2 linked regions of the Homo sapiens genome follow. The protein of the gene in region 2 interacts with the protein of the main gene of each other region in a pairwise test. Each region holds a gene or a part of one and is shown on either strand. Other genes may lie near its edges.

Region 1 (7,404 bases), on a different chromosome or scaffold from region 2:
CTTTCCAGTGGCTGGATGTGGACATGGTGGTAAGCTATCTTAGATCATGTGGACAAGGGAAACACATAGGGATATTAGAACCTCCAGACAGAAGGAACTTAGGACCCTGGACAGCTTTGTGGAGCAGTGCTCCCATACCAGCGTGAAGTTTTGTATGGGAGAAAACATACATTTCCAGCTTTTGTAAGCCACTGTTATTTTGGGTCTCTCTCAGAGCAGCCAAATATATAATTTAACTAATATATTTTCTTTCTGTGATTCTTCTTTATTTTGATTATACTTCTACTTCTCTGCCCCTCTTTTAGGTGGGAGGTGCTGCTCCAAGCACTAACTCAGAATATAGACCCTCTCCCTCTTGTAATAGTGCCAGCTTGGAGTTCTTTGCTTCCACTGTAGGGGAAGGAAGGAAAAAATATGGAGAACTCACATCCACTCTTCATTGTCCTCAAACAGAAGTAACCCATTTTGTTCTGCTCACAGCCCATTGGCCAGAACTAACTGTATGGCCCCAATCTAATTGCAAAGGAGTCTGGGAAGTACAGCACAGCACATGGATCTTTGGAAAGCGTTAATTTTCTCTGCCAAAGGCTTCTTTTGTTGTTGTTGTTGTTTGAAATGGAGTCCCGCTCCGTCACCCGGGCTGGAGTGCAGTGGCCCTATCTCAGCTCACTGCAACCTCCACCTCCCAGGTTCAAGCACTCCTCCAGCCTTGGCCTCCCAAGTAGCTAGGATTACAGGCGTGTGCCATCATACCTGGCTATTTTTTTTGTATTTTTAGTAGAGACAGGGTTTTACCGTGTTGGCCAGGCTGGTCTCAAACTCTTGGCTTCAAGTGATCCGCCTGCTTCGGTCTCCCAAAGTGTTGGGATTACAGGCGTGAGCCACTGTACCCGGCCAATACTGGTGTTTTCTGACCTCAGCGTTTTTCTTTTCTCCTGCCATGTACTCTCCCTAGAGATTTCATCTACTCCCAAGTCTTCCACTGCTCCTATCTGCTGATGACTCCCAAAACTCAGTCTCCAGCCGAGACTTCTCTCCTGGGCTTGAGACATATGTATCCAACTGCCAGAACATCTCCAGTGGACAGCCTTTGGGCACAAGGCCACACTAGCTTGTGGGTACAAGTAATCACCCAAAGTCAATTTCAGTGGCTCTCCACTCCCACATTTTTTCAACCCCTGGAAATGTTCCCTTCCCAAATACTCTGAGTCTCTCTTCTCTTTTCATGACTGTGGTTTTGTGACTGGATGGTAGCTCCTGTTGCTTTTTTTCCTTTCAAATGAATTTTCTCTTAGGAGGCTTCTTAGCCATTAAGCAAATAGACCTCAACTGGGCTTGCCCTATGCCTATCTGAAACCCAGCTTAGGTTCGAGTTAGGACTCCTGTTAATCTGAGCTCTCACTTCCTGTCCCAACCTGCTTATTTTTTTTGGTGAAAGAAAATATCATCCCCCTAGTTGCTCAGAAACCTGGGAATCATTGGGATTTTTTCCTCTCCTTCACCTTCCTCATCCAATCAGTCACCAAGTGCTATCAACTCTGCTGCCTTAGTAGCCCTCAATATATACTTACCTATCAACCATCACTGCTATGCCATACTTCAGGCCTTCATTTCTCACTTGGATTATTAAAATATCCCTAAATAGTTCCTCTGCCTTCTCTCTGGCCACCCTCCTGAGTGATCTCTCCATCATGTACCTTTCAGTGACTGCTTGCACAAGCCCCTTTGTGACTTGGTCATAGTCTGCTCTCTTGAACCACCAGAGCCAAGCACCTGGGTTCTGATTCTGGTTGCAACTCTTACTGCGTGATGATGGACAGGCCACTTGATCTCCTCAAACCTCAGTTCCTAAATCAAATGAATGATTGAATTCAGTCACTTAACTTTGTATGTAGTAGGTAGGCACTGTGCAAAACATACTAGTGGATATAGAGATGAATAAGAAAAAGCCCCTGCACTCAAAGAGCTCTCGGATTCATCAACAAATTATTGTGCAGTTAGATAGTAAGTGCTATAATCCAGGAATATACAGTGTTGTGTGAATAATGTGGAATCAGTTTATCTCCAGAGCAGAAAAAGGTGAAGGCCGAAGAAGGCATTCAGAGTGATACTGGAGCTGTGTAGCAGGGGCTACTACTGTTCCCTCAAATCCTTTCTTCTCTTCTTCCTGAGTAATAGAGTCCTTTTTCAGCTAGGCATACAGCCATCCAAAATAAAAACTATATTTCCCAGCCTCCTTTTCAGCTAAGTGTAGCCATGTGACTAAGTTGTGGCCAATGGGATGTCAGTACAAGTGGTAATGGCAATATCTGGGATGTGTCTTTAAAAGGAAGGAACATGTCCTTCTCCTTTTCCTCCTTCCTGTTCCCTGGGAGGTGAACTTGGTAGCTGGAGGTGAAGCAGCTGGAACTTGGATATGAGCGTCTTGTTGATGATAATAGTGCAACAAGATAAAAGCAGCCCGAGCTGGCCTACATTTACATGAGAAGGAAATAAGACTCCATTTTGTTTAAGCTATTCTCTTGCATATATATATACACATATATATCAGCTAAGTGTAGCCATGTGACTAACTTGTGGCCAATGGGATGTCAGTATGAGTGGTAAGAGCAGTATCTTGTATATATATATGTGTATATATACACACACACATATATATACATATATGTATGCAAGAATATAAAATATACATGTGTGTGTGTATATATATACACACATATATATGTCCCTTGCAGCCAAGTCTAATTCTAACTAATACAAACTAACTCTAAAAAATGAATATATATTCACCAGGGGATAGGCTATTTCAAGCAGAGGGAAGCCTGTATAAAGGCTCAGGGAATGCCGTGGTTTTATGTGGCAGCAGATGAGACTGGAAATGAGTCAGGATGAGCCACAGTGGAGGATGAATTAAATGGGCAGGAGTGTGGTAGAAAGACCTGTTGGAGGCTATGAATGCAATCAAGGTGACAGACAACTGGTGCAATGATGGTAGTGGAAATGGAGGAGAGGGGATTGATTCAAGATGCATTTAGGACCAAGAATCGGGAGCTTGTGAACGTGTGTATGAGTACTGTAGACGGAGTGGGTGTGTCATCAGAGAAGATCTGAGCATTTGGGCTTGCTCTCCTCAGAGGCCCTGCGAGTGGAGTTCAGCTTTTCCTCATGGGGCAAATCTCACTTTCGCTCCAGTTCCTGGGGCTCAGAGTCCCTGGCCCAGATGCCTCTTGCCATCTCATCTTCACCCTGCCTGGCTTCCCTTGCTTGTTCCAGGATTGTTTCATAAAGAGGGATGTGGTTGGTCTTTAACCCTATGAATGCTGGCTGAGGATGCCTGCGGAACCTGTAGTGAAGCTTTCAGGGGCTGCTCGGGTTCTGGCTGGTAGGTGAACACTGTCCATCTTGCCGGCTGGGACACAGTGACTCTGGGTAGTTGTGTAAGAGAGGGGCCCTTGGCAGACAAACAGGTTCTTCTCTGTTGGTGGGCCAGCCAGCAGGTCAGTGGGAAGGTTAAAGGTCATGGGGTTTGGGAGAAACTGGGTGAGGAGTTCAGCCCCATCCCCCGTAAAGCTCCTGGGAAGCACTTCTCTACTGGGGCAGCCCCTGATACCAGGGCACTCATTAACCCTCTGGGTGCCAGGGAAAGGGCAGGAGGTGAGTGCTGGGAGGCAGCTGAGGTCAACTTCTTTTGAACTTCCACGTGGTATTTACTCAGAGCAATTGGTGCCAGAGGCTCAGGGCCCTGGAGTATAAAGCAGAATGTCTGCTCTCTGTGCCCAGACGTGAGCAGGTGAGCAGCTGGGGCAGAGGGATGGGGGTCACAGTCCTAAGGGAGGGCATTGCAGGTGGCCTCAGGGGAGAGCCTGGGGTGGCCCCTAAGACGTCCTCTTGGAACATTTTGGCAGAGTTGCCTCTTCGCCCTCATTATGGCTCAGTTTTTCCACCATGAAATGGGAGGGAGGGAGACAGGTGGGCAGGGGAGAGGTGGTAGAAGTGGCCTAGAGAACTGTTCCTGGGGTCTGGGACCTTTGCGAAGGGGTTAGAGCACCACGCTCCCTGCTATGTGACTGAGGTAGCAAGAGCACGCCCTCTTCCCATGTCTGAGGAAGACACCCTAGCCTCCTTGACTCACCTAGGTCAGTCCTCTTGAGCCCCAACAGCTCTGTGCTCCCCAGCCCAAGGAAGGGGTAACAGGATTTCGGGCAGTTGCCCCTGCAGAGGCCCCCTGGGCAAGTCCCCTGCGCCATGTCCCTTCGTCTCCTTCTTCCCCTAACCAGGCCTCCCTCCACCTGTCTTCTCAGAGCAGGTAATGGCAAGCATGGCTGCCGTGCTCACCTGGGCTCTGGCTCTTCTTTCAGGTGGGTCTCCGACCCTGACTTCAACGTGGGGGTGTGGGTGGAGGCTGGCCAGAGGGCCCTGTCCACCCTGGGGGAGGAGAGCCCAGGCCCTGATTACCTAGTCCCTCTCCACAGCGTTTTCGGCCACCCAGGCACGGAAAGGCTTCTGGGACTACTTCAGCCAGACCAGCGGGGACAAAGGCAGGGTGGAGCAGATCCATCAGCAGAAGATGGCTCGCGAGCCCGCGTGAGTGCCCAGGGGAAGGGGTGTAGGCGAAGGGAGGAGACAGCTGGGCCATGCCATGATGACCTGCCTCTGCTGCCTCAACCTCTGTGGCCGCTGCTGGGACAGAGGAAAGGAGCGGTGCTAGCTCTGTCTGCAGATCCCGGCCATCCTGGGCTCTTTAGCGCCCTCTGCCTGCAGCCCCCGCCTTGACAACTCCGTAGCTGTTGCCCCCTTGCTCACTGAGGCGCGGGACCTGGGATCAATCGGGAGGACGCCCGCTGCAGTCCCCAGAATCAAAGGATGATGTGGCGCATCTATGTTTCTTTGGAGAGTGTTGTAGGTCTGGATTTGTATGGGCAATGTGTTTGTGCTTCGTGCGTGAGTTGTTACTGGCCAGGGCTAGGACAAGAGCCCTCGACCCTGGGGCCAACGCCCTGCGTCCTTGGTTCCCCCAGAGGATCAGTGCGCGATGACTTGGGGACAAAGGAGATGATGGAGGCTAGCAGTCTGACGGCCTGGATATCTGTCCCCTTCTCCAGGACCCTGAAAGACAGCCTTGAGCAAGACCTCAACAATATGAACAAGTTCCTGGAAAAGCTGAGGCCTCTGAGTGGGAGCGAGGCTCCTCGGCTCCCACAGGACCCGGTGGGCATGCGGCGGCAGCTGCAGGAGGAGTTGGAGGAGGTGAAGGCTCGCCTCCAGCCCTACATGGCAGAGGCGCACGAGCTGGTGGGCTGGAATTTGGAGGGCTTGCGGCAGCAACTGAAGCCCTACACGATGGATCTGATGGAGCAGGTGGCCCTGCGCGTGCAGGAGCTGCAGGAGCAGTTGCGCGTGGTGGGGGAAGACACCAAGGCCCAGTTGCTGGGGGGCGTGGACGAGGCTTGGGCTTTGCTGCAGGGACTGCAGAGCCGCGTGGTGCACCACACCGGCCGCTTCAAAGAGCTCTTCCACCCATACGCCGAGAGCCTGGTGAGCGGCATCGGGCGCCACGTGCAGGAGCTGCACCGCAGTGTGGCTCCGCACGCCCCCGCCAGCCCCGCGCGCCTCAGTCGCTGCGTGCAGGTGCTCTCCCGGAAGCTCACGCTCAAGGCCAAGGCCCTGCACGCACGCATCCAGCAGAACCTGGACCAGCTGCGCGAAGAGCTCAGCAGAGCCTTTGCAGGCACTGGGACTGAGGAAGGGGCCGGCCCGGACCCCCAGATGCTCTCCGAGGAGGTGCGCCAGCGACTTCAGGCTTTCCGCCAGGACACCTACCTGCAGATAGCTGCCTTCACTCGCGCCATCGACCAGGAGACTGAGGAGGTCCAGCAGCAGCTGGCGCCACCTCCACCAGGCCACAGTGCCTTCGCCCCAGAGTTTCAACAAACAGACAGTGGCAAGGTTCTGAGCAAGCTGCAGGCCCGTCTGGATGACCTGTGGGAAGACATCACTCACAGCCTTCATGACCAGGGCCACAGCCATCTGGGGGACCCCTGAGGATCTACCTGCCCAGGCCCATTCCCAGCTCCTTGTCTGGGGAGCCTTGGCTCTGAGCCTCTAGCATGGTTCAGTCCTTGAAAGTGGCCTGTTGGGTGGAGGGTGGAAGGTCCTGTGCAGGACAGGGAGGCCACCAAAGGGGCTGCTGTCTCCTGCACATCCAGCCTCCTGCGACTCCCCAATCTGGATGCATTACATTCACCAGGCTTTGCAAACCCAGCCTCCCAGTGCTCATTTGGGAATGCTCATGAGTTACTCCATTCAAGGGTGAGGGAGTAGGGAGGGAGAGGCACCATGCATGTGGGTGATTATCTGCAAGCCTGTTTGCCGTGATGCTGGAAGCCTGTGCCACTACATCCTGGAGTTTGGCTCTAGTCACTTCTGGCTGCCTGGTGGCCACTGCTACAGCTGGTCCACAGAGAGGAGCACTTGTCTCCCCAGGGCTGCCATGGCAGCTATCAGGGGAATAGAAGGGAGAAAGAGAATATCATGGGGAGAACATGTGATGGTGTGTGAATATCCCTGCTGGCTCTGATGCTGGTGGGTACGAAAGGTGTGGGCTGTGATAGGAGAGGGCAGAGCCCATGTTTCCTGACATAGCTCTACACCTAAATAAGGGACTGAACCCTCCCAACTGTGGGAGCTCCTTAAACCCTCTGGGGAGCATACTGTGTGCTCTCCCCATCTCCAGCCCCTCCCTCTGGGTTCCCAAGTTGAAGCCTAGACTTCTGGCTCAAATGAAATAGATGTTTATGATAGAAGTTTGCCTGGCGTGACTCTCATTTGGACCATGTCTGAAAGCAGTGGCCTCACCACTATCCCCAAAGCACACCCATCACCCACTCCATTCCCTTGCTGCTCTTTCTCATCCACCCACTCCCAGTCCAGGTCTGTCAAAGGGGGTCTGGCTGGGCTCTGCTTCAGGGATCCTGGCTAGACAACGGCTGTCTGTCACACCTGGCAGGAGGGCCTGGGTTACGGGCCCTTCCTCTGCACCTGCACTGTTCACTAGCCTGCTCCCCCACAGGACACTGTGCATGGAATGCAGGCTGTGTCTGGAAGAGCTGTGGCCCTGGTGGACCTAAGATTCCTGAGGTGGGCTGCCTCCTTTGTTCCTGCTGTTCTAGAGTTTGAATGGCCTCTTTTTATGCCGGACTCTCTTCTGGGGACTCCCCTCACTCAGGGGCACCAATGCTCCCTATAGATCCCCTGGGAACTGAAACTGGGGTGTGGTGGAGGACGTGGAAAGGGTAAACACAGCTCCTTGTCTTTGGACTTCCCTGTCCGGCCCCCTTTCCTCCCAGCTCAGCCTACTGTCCCCGGGTTCTCAGCACCTGCCTGCTCCCCAACCCCATAGCACAG
Region 2 (4,465 bases):
TCTGAATTCTTTCTGTAAAATGTGATTGTTTCTCAGCTTGAAGAAGAAAAAAGGAGACAGAAGATTGAAATGTGGGACAGCATGCAAGAAGGAAAAAGTTACAAAGGAAATGCAAAGAAGCCCCAGGTGACTGGAGACCTCGGCCGGCTGGCATGCGGTAGATGAAGATTGCCAAGTAGAATGTTTTAATTGCTTCTTACACTACTGTGTGTGTTCAAACAGGAGGAAGACAGTCCTGGGCCTTCCACTTCATCTGTCCTGAAACGGAAATCGGACAGAAAGCCTTTGCGGGGAGGAGGTAAGCACCACTGATGTCAAATGTTAACAGATTTTCAACACTTACAGGATATAGTTACCTTTTAGGAACAAGATTGTTTGTTTCTTTGTCCATAAATTAAGACTAATTCCTTAGGATTGTGAAGATTCAATAAAGGAAACAGATGCAAATCACCTCCTAGGTCCTCACTAAGTACTTAGAAGGATTGTACTTATAGTATTCTAACTTGATCCTTCTGCAGCCCCGTAGAGGGAGAGCTAAGTAGGGTGAGGAATTGTCTGCCAATCTTCAGATGAGTGTCAAGGAGCTGGAACACAGTGGTTTTGGTCTTTCTGGCTGGGACCACCTTGTTTCTTGCAAATAACAAGGAGTAGCAGACAGATGCTCATCCAAAGCTGCTTCCTGTGTGCAGCACTGCCCCGGGGACTCTGGATGATGCCACAGCAGTCTGTCTTCATCCCATCCCTGAGAATTTCAAATCTGGGAAGATGGGACTCACAAACGAAAATAAGCAATCCTTGGTGATTCTGGCTAAGAGTTGCAAGTTACTGCTGAGGAAGGAAAGAACAAACACACTAGAACACTGTAGGAACCAAGGCGGAAGATTTTGTATCCTCCATAGGAGGAGAGGGGCACCGCAGAGGCCCTGATGGTGTCTTTGAGGACTGAGGAAAGACTGGGGCATGGGCTCCAAGGCAGCAGGGCCACAGACTTGGCTGACCTTAAACGCTGAGCTGTAATCCCCTTTGTGTCAGAAGACTAAACCTGGCTTGCTGTAGAGAAGGTGATGCATCTGGAAAGAAAATGCTATTTTTAAATGGTCCTGCCGGAAGCTTATTTTTAGACACATAGAGGTGATATTTAGGAGAGGAATGGAAATCGTAGAAGATGGAATGCAGGGTGTGCTTGCCTGCACGGCCTCTTTCAGCATCCCCAGCATTTCTGAGCTGGGACTTTTGACTAGCCTGGCTTTACAAATAAGGAAACTGAGGCACAGTGTTTAATTGCCCAAAGATTCCACTATAAGTAAGGAGTAAAAGTAACATTTAAGTTCTGGGTGGCCCTAGAACCTTAGCACTCAACCAGGTTACCAGTTGTGCACTGACTTTGGGAAGCTCATGAGGGAGTGGGGTGGTTGGGGGTAGGGAAGGATACAGAAGACCCCGTTCTGACTGGTAGAAGTGACAAGTTTGACTCTTGATTTTTTTTAATCTGTTTTCTGTAGCGTGAACAGCCCTTATTTGAATGTATGAGTTTTAGTAAGCACTGTGATAGGAGGATTCATATACTTAAATCAGGCCCTCTTGAGAGAGTTTTTTGGTGACCCTTTTGCATGTGTTTCGGAGGTTGGGACAAAGAAGCTGAATGACTTTTTTCCCCACCAGACAATCAGTTCAAATGGCAATCACAATATAAAGGTTTTTTTTTTTTTCACATAGCTAAAAGGTTTTTTTAAATGTCCCTTAGGATCTGTATCTTTGCAGTGCTTTGCGTGTCACTCTCATAATTTTATTGTGGATATACAATGTTCCCAGATTTTCAGATTTTTATCAATACTGTTGTGCTGCTTTTCTGTCCTCCCAGGTTATAACCCGTTGTCTGGTGAAGGAGGCGGAGCTTGCTCCTGGAGACCTGGACGCAGAGGCCCGTCATCTGGCGGATGAGGCTAAGAATCTTGTTAGTGTCACTTTTGACATTAGCAAGATGAACCCTTAACCCTCGATTCAATTGCCTTACGCACGCTTTTCACAGTGACTAGCCAAGGGGAGGTGGGGTTGATTTCTGTTCCTAACTACACCTGCATATGTCAGGGCTCCAGTCAGCAAAAGGTATAGATGTTGCCTCTAGGCATGAGGTCATTGGTCACATTCTACTTGGAGACAGTGATTGCATTCATTGATTTCATGGTTAATTGCTAGTTGGTAGGTAAAGGCCTCTAGATGATTAGCAATCTTGATAAAAGAGGCCTAGTAATGTTCTTTTGAGGTTAGAAATCCTTGCTGCTAGGACAGTCTCTGTGACAGGTTGCGTTGAATGATGTCTTCCTTATCAATGGTGAGCCCACCAGTGAGGATTACTGATGTGGACAGTTGATGGGGTTTGTTTCTGTATATTTATTTTTATGTACAGAACTTTGTAAAAACGAAACTATTTAAAAAACAAGAATAACATTTTTAGCATCTTTATTCAAGGAGATTTATGGACTTCAATTTGTCTATCAAACATTAAATAGCTTTTTATTACAACCTCTAACTATTACTTATTTCTCTATTTATTATTACTCACCCAAAATAAGTCTGGCAAGTGGCAGACAGCTGCCGTGATTTTGAAAGTTGACAGACTCCTTGGGGTTCATCCACAAAATTGGGTGCTTGGAGTCGAGTTGCCGAATTACTGGGATAAAGAAACATCGTGCCTCAAGGTTCCTCATAGGCTGACCAGGTTTCTACGTGACCTCTCAGTTATTCCCTTACGCCATGACTCATCTTTTACGCTCTTGTCCAGAGGCACTATCAGCAGTTTTGGATAAAGAGCCAAACAGTAAATATTTTAGACTTTACAGGCCACATATGATCTCTGTCACATAGTCTTAGGTTTTTATATTTTTAAAGGATTGTTTTTAAAAAAGATTCTCTGCTCATGGGCTGGATTTGGGCTGAATGCTGTAGTGTGTGGACCCCGTCTAGATCATCAGAAGGAAAAACATTAACCTTCAGAATAGGGGGTAATTCGCTGCAAAAGTACTATAGAATGGTCTCATACATAAATTAGTCAACATTTGTTATCTCCTGCAGGTAGAATATTCCGTGGTTGCTTCTTGACCAAGGGAAATACAGTCTGGCTGTGAGAGACTTAAAATCTCTTGAGGAGCGCTCTGGAGAATGGCTGAAGGAGAGGAAACAGGAGCCTTGAGCAGTGTAATTACAAACAAATAGGTTGGCATAGTCTTAAGTCTTTGAGTCTAGAGAGATTTGAGTTTTGTTTTGCCTGTGGAGGCAATTGGGGGTTTCAGGTCAAAGAGAGGGTCAGTGGAAACAAGGGTGGGCCTTGTGAGGTGTGGGGAAGCCCTGGGACCCTCACTCCCCTTCCAGTGTGTAACTGGATTGGCTCCCACCAGCCCAGAAGATTTACGACGTGGGAAATGGTATACTTGGATTAAAATATTTCATCCAGATTTGTTTACATCTAGAGAGAACCCCTTGTAGGTTATAAGGAAACTTTTTAACATTCTTCCTTGAATATATTTTCTGTAGCTGAAAATGTTTGTGAAGTGGCTGTCAACTACACATCGCATGAGTAGAGGGGCTCTGGGTCGGGGTTTCATATGCAGCAGAGCAGCTCCCTTGCTGCCGTCCATCAAGAGCCCTCAACACAAGAGTTTGTTATAAATAGAAATAAACGACAAAAAGTAGAGGGGTATGTTTAAGTACACTATTAGATGTGACTGACTACCTTGAAACCTGATTTTTTTCCATGGGGAGAAACAGTGCTTGAATTCTGCATGCCCCCCTTGCATCTAGCACCTTTTGGTAGGGGTGGAAGGAGGGTGTCAGGGAGAATGATTAGGAGATAATGGAGGGGAGGGGAAACTTGCGTTGTGTAATAGCATTTGAAGAGCACTTACCACGTGGCAGGAGTGTCCATTTCTGTTTGATCCCCCTAGAATCCTATGAAACGGGTATGTTACTAACCTTGGTTTTCAGAAACTGAAGCTTAGATGGGCTTAGTAACTGGTCCACAACGCTACTCGCTGTAGTCTACTTCATCCTTGTGTTCATATTAGCCAAAGGCCTTAAGTCATCAAGGTGTGGGAAGCTTCTTGCAGCTAATGAAACAGTTATGTGGCCAGGCACAGTGGCTCACGCCTGTAATCCCACCAGCCAAGATGGGTGGATCACCTGAGGTCAGGAGTTCGAGACCAGCCTGACTAATATGGTAAAACCCTGTCTCTACTAAAAATACAAAAAATTAGCTGGGCATGATGGCATATGCCTGTAATCCCAGCTCCTTGGGAGGCTGAGGCAGGAGAATTGCTTGAACGTGGGAGGTGGAGGTGGAGGTTGTGATGAGCCAAGATCGTGCCATTGCACTCCACCCTGGGCAACAAGAGCAAAACTCCATCTCCAAAAAAAAAAAAAAAAAAAAAGTTATGTGAAGTAATAATACAGTGAAAATCACATTACAGAT

Evidence for each region.
Region 1: the proteins of SELENOS (region 2) and APOA5 interact in binary tests that used the Homo sapiens proteins (3 or more experiments, as listed by UniProt).

The regions. Positions count from the first base shown.
Region 1 is NC_000011.10:116,788,766-116,796,169, reverse strand, and holds APOA5 (apolipoprotein A-V precursor), read left to right. Parts: upstream 1-4,290; 5' UTR 4,291-4,309; coding exon 4,310-4,358; intron 4,359-4,472; coding exon 4,473-4,584; intron 4,585-5,102; coding exon 5,103-6,042; 3' UTR 6,043-6,803; downstream 6,804-7,404. UniProt on the Homo sapiens protein: Minor apolipoprotein mainly associated with HDL and to a lesser extent with VLDL. May also be associated with chylomicrons.
Region 2 is NC_000015.10:101,270,253-101,274,717, reverse strand, and holds the end of SELENOS (selenoprotein S), read left to right. Parts: intron 1-36; coding exon 37-126; intron 127-222; coding exon 223-298; intron 299-1,861; coding exon 1,862-1,941; coding exon of another isoform or gene 1,942-1,947; 3' UTR 1,948-1,954; exon of another isoform or gene 1,955-2,527; intron 2,528-3,072; 3' UTR 3,073-3,909; downstream 3,910-4,465. UniProt on the Homo sapiens protein: Involved in the degradation process of misfolded endoplasmic reticulum (ER) luminal proteins. Participates in the transfer of misfolded proteins from the ER to the cytosol, where they are destroyed by the proteasome in a ubiquitin-dependent manner.